Linked DNA regions of Homo sapiens. The protein of the gene in region 2 purifies or fractionates together with the protein of the main gene of each other region. This does not show direct contact. Each region holds a gene or a part of one and is shown on either strand. Other genes may lie near its edges.

Region 1 (3,383 bases), on a different chromosome or scaffold from region 2:
CTTTACCAATATTGAGGAAGCTCCTAACAGAACCTCAAAAATACATAACCACATAACCTTTTTTGATTTTTGAGATGGAGTTTTGCTCTTGTTGCCCAGGCTGGAATGCAACGGTGTGACCTCAGCTCACTGCAACATCTGCCTCCTAGGTTCAAGGGAGTCTCCTGCCTCAGCCTCCCAAGTAGCTGGGATTAGAGGTGCCCCACCACCACGCCCAGCTAATTTTTTGTATTTTTGTAGAGACAGGGTTTGACCATGTTGGCCAGGCTAGTCTGGAACTCCTGACCTCAGGTGATCGACCCACCTCAGCCTCCCAAAGTGCTGAGATTATAGGCATGAGCCACCGTGCCCAGCCCCTATAAAGATTTAAACAAGCTTATGGCCTCAGCTCACTGCAACCTCTGCCTCCTGGGTTCAAGTGATTCTTGTGCCTCAGCCTCCTGAGTAGCTGGGATTACAGGTGCCCACCACCATGGCTGGCTAATTTTTGTATTTTCAGTAGAGATGGGTTTTCACCGTATTGGCCAGGCTGGTCTCAAACTCCTGACCTCAAGTGATCTGCCCACCTGAGCCTCCCAAAGTGCTGGGATTACAGGTGTGAGCCACCACGTCCGGCTGGGACCATATCTTAATGAATACATTTTTTAAATGAAGAACCTAGAACAGAGAACCATTAACCCTAGCTTTTAGGAACATTTAGATGACTTACATTTTGGAGGGGAAATGTCTATGTACCTTTAAAGTGTCTCTACATCAGGAACACACAAAGAAAACAATTCCAGCAACCCTAAAATTAGGCTCAAATGAAATCAATAAATATTGTCTGGCTGATCATTATAAATTTTATCTTTTAAAAGCCTGACCTGCTCTTTTTTCTCAGCTTCTATTTTCTCAATGCTACGGTTCTAACTATCTAGTGAATGTTACAGCTCAATCTTTGAAAGTCACTTAGTCTAATGAGGAAATAAGCCCAGAGAGGTGCCCACATGCTTTGGTCTCCTGCCTTTTTGCATATTGCATTGACCACAGCAACACCAACAAGAAACCAAGTACACTCTGAATCTTCTCGACATTTTGCTATCAGAGCAATTTATGTTCATGGAAAGTCACAATTATAAATTTGTTCCTTTTAAAAGGAACTCAAATGGAATTTCTAATATTAGCCTGTGAGAATGTCCTGACTGATTACTGAAGAATGGACAAACTTCTAGGATAGAATTATGGGTGTTGCTCAGATGGGTAGCAGAGAAACTGGGGAAGCTCTTGTACTGGCCATTGAAATGTTAACACTGAAACCCTGCAGCAGTGGGGAGAGTGTGCATGCTTTCTGCTGCTGGTAGGTGGTAAGGCTGTATGATGTTTTAAAGCACAGGCTCAAAAATCACAATTCACTATCTACATGACCTTAAGCAAGTTATTTTACCTCTCTCTATAACTCAGTTTCCTCAACTATAAAGTGGGATAAAAGCGTATCTCATAAGATAATTAAGAATATTATAATACATAATAAAGAACTCAGGACAGTGGCTAGTACAGAGGTCTCAGTAAATTTTAGTTTCCATTTCAAGTGGCTGTTTTACTTGCCTATTGTTAACAGACTCAGAAATTCTGAGAGTCTGGTTAGAAAAAGGAAAATTCGTTTTTTTTCAGTCTACCTTGCAAGATAAGGGAAACCAAGTGACAGTGCTGAAATGAACACTGGGCTGAGTGGTACCAAACATCAGTTTAGTCACTAATTAGCCATGTGATCCTGTTAAGAAGGTTAGCTTGTATAACCTTATTTTTAAGGACACATAATGATTTCAAAAGTCCAAGTATAAATCAGTAATTACAAATCAGCCTTATAATACCCAGGTATCTATGAAAACTAAAAATTGAGAGTTGATAAATATAAGAAATTACTGCTGATCTAAAAGGAAGTGGCAGAAATCCCCTGAAATGTGTTAAATCTTTGCCTTACTAAATACTTGCCAGAAGCTATAACTATATTTTCTTATTAATTTCATGTTCATCTTCTCAACAAGTAAACAAAAATAAAGCCAACAAAATTCTCATATTTGCCAGCATTATTTTTTAAAAAACATTTCTCATTAATGGTTTTAGTCAAGAATGAGAGCAAAGTAATATAGAAAACCTAGGTTTATTTGTTAAGCTATTACAAAAACAAAACAATTACCATTTGAAGTACTTTGAGGACTTCATCCCAGACTCACTTGTTCTGTTACAGAAACTAACCTAAAAGGCTGGAAATTAAAGGATACAACCTAAGAGGTTATAACAGCAGACTGGTAAAACATGGCGAAAGGAGCTCTCTCTTTCCCCCGCAGTCTACCAAGCTCCTGTGCATTTTCACCACATAGATCTGCTAGCTTACAAATGATGCACACAGTCAAGGTAGGAATTATAGGCCTACTCAGAGGGTACCCAGACACAGAAAGTTTTAGGGTAAATAGTAAACTACAAATACCCTCTTGGTTAAGTTAATTCATCAAGTTAATAAAGGTCATATTATCTATCTTCTGCTGGTGACAACTTGTTGTCTCAGTATAGTCTGTCTCAAGAAAGAACTGGTTCAGGTTGGGTTTTGGAAAAGGAAAAAGACTTTCATTAACTTCACTCCAGAGTGGAAGAGGCACCAAGTTCTCTCCTACACTTAGGAGCAGAATCTGAAAAACAAAAGGTTTACAGTGTTTACAGTAGTGATAATAATAATAGCTACTACTTATTGAATGCCTAGTCACGAGTGCCAGAGGACTTAGGTACATTTTATCTTAGCCTCTGCAACAACCCTGCAAGGTAGGTATTATCCTCCCCATTTTACAGATGGGGGAAGTGAGGATTAAATAAGTTATATGCCTTGTCCAAAGGTGTACACAAGTATGTGGCAGAGTTGTGATTCCACGATTAACGTGCCGTCTCCACCCCACCTCATGCACTGAGAAGTCCTAGTTCCATTATCCTGAAATTATTAACAGTTGCATAAACTACTCTTAATTATTTATTCCTTATTCATTCTTTTAAAGCATGTACAATTTTAAATGATTAAAAATTTACACAGCCAGGTGTGGTGGCTCACACCTGTAATCCCAGCACTTTGGGAGGCCAAGGCAGGCGGATAACCTGAGGTCAGAAGTTCAAGACCAGCCTTACCAAACATGGAGAAACACTGTCTCTACTAAAATTACAAAATTAGCCAGGCGTGGTGGCACATGCCTGTAATCCCAGCTACTCGGGAGGATGAGGCAGGAGAATCACTTGAACCCGGGGGGGCGGAGGATTCGGTGAGCCGATTGCACCATTGCACTCCAGCCTGGGCAACAAGAGCGAAACTCCATCTCAAAAAAAAAAAAAAAAAAAAAAAAATTAGCCGGGTGTGGTGGTGG
Region 2 (3,500 bases):
CACTCGCCAGGATGTCTAAAGCCAGCAGCAAGTGCTTATAACCAGAAACACTGACGAAAAATATAAATTAGCTTTCATTTCTCCCACTGAAATCTCTGATGCCTGCCCCTGCCCCTGGTGCATGCACTTGAACCTGCGCTGCTGCTTCAGGACATCCGCAAAACAAACGGAAGGCAGGATAAAGTGCAATTAACAAAACAAAAACCAAAGCATTGCAGCGCATTCACGTTGGTTTTGGCTGCTTTCTTAGACTCAACTGGTGAGACATAATGCTTTTAGATATTTAATTCTATTAAAATTTCTCAATATGATCGCCTTTCGAATAGTGAAGTACATTCTTGAGATGCAACTAAAGGCATGTGACAGATATGCCAAGCAGACACAAAGGACAATAAGTGAAGACACCTTTGAGATGTTGAAGGCAAAGCCAGCTGGATGCAACCACACACTCACGCCCAAAAAAAGGGTAAGGAAAGGCACATGGGCACATTCAGAAACACCAAGGACGAAAACAAATGGCCACCTGAACCCAGCTTTGAGAAGTAGAAGTAACCCCTCCTATGAATTCTGTTGGTTTTCGCGCAGACTCTAATAAACTGAAGATTTCAGAGCCATCCATGAGCTTTTCCCCAGAAGACTGCTTAGTCTGAGTGAACAAAGAGAGGCAGAGTCAAGCACAAAAGAGAGACACAAACTCAGGCACATAAACATTCACAGCTTGTTAGACAAAATCGTAGGCAGAGGAGACAGGGAGGAGGAAGAACGAAGGAATCTCAGAGTTTGGAAACGAAAAGAATGGGAAATAAAATAGAAAACCAGGTGCTCTTGTTTGGTAAAGCAGAGACGGTTATTAGGATCAGGGTGGCGCCGATTTAAGCAGATATATATATTTTTTCCCCTTCATTGCAAGCCACAGCAGCACTATCACATCTTGGGAACAGGGAGCTGGAAATAAAATGGAAAGTGTTTTAATGCTGACTTTGCACTGCGGTATTGATTTAACCATGAAAAAAAATTAAGAAGCTGGGTTGGCTGCTCTCAACATAAAGCCAAGCAGCAAGAGAAACGGAAAGGTTTGGGGTGGAAGGGGACTGCCTCAAAAACTGTCATGCTGGAATTGCAAACTGTGGCCCCAATGAGTGACACTGGTTACCACTACTCGGGAGGCGGATGACTCAGTAACGTAATGGGCAGTAGCAACGGTAAAGGCTGGTTCCTGGGAATATCTCCATTCGGACAGGCTCTTCCTTCGGGGACCAAAGAGGCCCACTTTTAAGACCTCACTCTCGGGCACTTGCTCTGTTTTGCTGAAGCGTCTGCCTTCCAGGCCAGGGAGGACGGCCACATCCTTCTCCAGCTGTGGAGCCTTCTTGAGGTCATCTTCTTCAGGACTCTGCCGGCGAGACTCGGCCTCCTTGATGGGGGCCAGGGATTCGGACAATTTCCGCTGTGTCGTCTGGACCTCTGGTCCTCTCTTGGATTTCTCATCAGCGAGGGTTTCCAGGACCTCATATTCTGCCAGGCCGGGAATGATCTTCATGGACTCTGGTATTTCTTTCTCCATTTTCTGAAGTGCTTCTGTAGTGGAGGGCTGCTCCACTTTCTCACCCTCTTTAGCTTTCCCAGTCATAGTAACAATTCTCCCGGAGACAGTGTCATAGGATTTTCCTAGAGTGTATATTTTCTGTTTGCTGTCTTCTTTCAGTTGCATTTCTCGAGCCAATTCTTCGAAGCTTTGCATTTTAATAGTGCCAGATTTTAACATGTCAGCTGGGAGATCACCAGTTTTACTGCTCACGGTCACCACCTTGTAAGTCACAATCTTTTTCAAATCACCATCAACTACCTCAGTTGGTATTCTGTCTACAATAACCCAATCCTCTGTGCCCTATATTTGAAATATAAAAGCTAAATTAGAAATTCTGATGGTATCTCATTTCTAAAATAAGAATCCTTTAAGAAAATCAGGGCAACTGCTACATGCAGGTCTGTGATGGGACCATACAGTGCTCATGTTATTATCTAATAATTATGGCTGCAATCTCTTCTCCTCTGAAATGATAAACTATAAACTTCAGCTCAGAATACATTCGGTAGGTAGAGTTGCAACTTCTTTAAACTGGAACATACTTTGCAGTAAATTTTTTGAAGAACAGATTTGCTCTTATGATAAATTTTGGATCATTTTATATTTCAAGATTAAATAACATTATTGATGTTGCTCTATAAGTTACTTAGCTTTACATGTGTGGGGATAAAAGTTTTCCTCGTTAAATATAATCTATACTTCATATACTGTTATCACAGAGAGCTTCCCAACATTCTACAAATTTATGTAAATATTTTCCATATTTGTAAATTGTATTTCTTTATACAGGGAAATGAATCCATAATAGCACTTATTATTCAATAAATATTGAGTGTGACTGTGTTCAAGGCATTGTAATGAAATATTTCCCACAAATAGGACACTATTAGAGCCTCTTACAGTGATCTGTACAGTGTTCGAGTCTTACATTTTTTTTTTAAAAGATGGGGTCTCCCTATGTTGCCCAGGTCGGCCTCGAACCCCTGGGCTCAAGTGATCCTCCCATCTCAGCCTCCCCAGGAGCTGGGACTACAGGCACATGCCATTGTGCCCGCTCCAATCTTATTTACAACTGAAGTTCACTGTCTCAGGAGTTTCTCTCTCACTTTCTTTAGTGTTAGTTCCAATAAGGCAAAAGAAAGGAAAGCTAAGAAACTTTTGTATTCAGGGAGGCATAATACAATATGACCAGGTAGGTTAATAGCTTCACAGATTACAGAGGGAAGAGATATCAAACCAGGAGCAGGTGAGTGCCCTGGTTTACATTTTAAACTAGAATGTTTTCTAGAAACTTTTCTGTTTTTTACAGCCTGAAAACTTAAATCTAGAAATACGTGTGCCTTTAAAAATACCACTACAGATTGATCTACATGTTGTTGCTAGATTAAATGAAATGAATTGAAAGAATAACCTCTAGGGTTGATGGGACAGTTTTCTGGAAAATTATTTGACGAGAAGTAACCACAGAGTCAGCAGAGTCTCCTTCCTGCATTTTCTTTATCACACTTGGCTAGTGGGGAAACCAATAAGAATTCAGAACTTTCAAAATCAGTCAACTTCATCTAAATTAGCACGACTCTACAGGTAAAAACAGGCAGTAAAACAACATTTCAGCAAGATTATTATCAGAAAGTAAGTCAATGACAACATACAGAGAAAAATCAGCTTGGATTAGAAGCCATGAAGAAATGATGCATAACTGATAACTAAAATATTAAGAAAATTCAATTTTCCCTTCCCCAGAATCTAAATCAAAATTATGTACCTACCTTGGTTTTAAACAAGATAAATGTTAAAGGGAAAATAAAAACTAAGAGCATTTTAATGACACTGAAGTCTGAAGACCAATTTCTTCTGGAAAATCCTTTATGTTTGGTTTTTACCTGAGACTCAAGGAATGGAGCGCTTCCTT

The links.
Region 1: the proteins of EPB41L3 (region 2) and CLNS1A purify together in Homo sapiens (affinity purification with mass spectrometry; 3 studies listed by BioGRID and IntAct, with this or other methods). This does not show direct contact.

The regions. Positions count from the first base shown.
Region 1 is NC_000011.10:77,614,030-77,617,412, forward strand, and holds the end of CLNS1A (methylosome subunit pICln), read right to left. Parts: intron 2,667-3,383; 3' UTR 501-2,666; downstream 1-500. UniProt on the Homo sapiens protein: Involved in both the assembly of spliceosomal snRNPs and the methylation of Sm proteins.
Region 2 is NC_000018.10:5,397,498-5,400,997, forward strand, and holds part of EPB41L3 (band 4.1-like protein 3), read right to left. Parts: coding exon of another isoform or gene 3,472-3,500; intron 647-3,471; coding exon 524-646; intron 1-523. UniProt on the Homo sapiens protein: Tumor suppressor that inhibits cell proliferation and promotes apoptosis. Modulates the activity of protein arginine N-methyltransferases, including PRMT3 and PRMT5.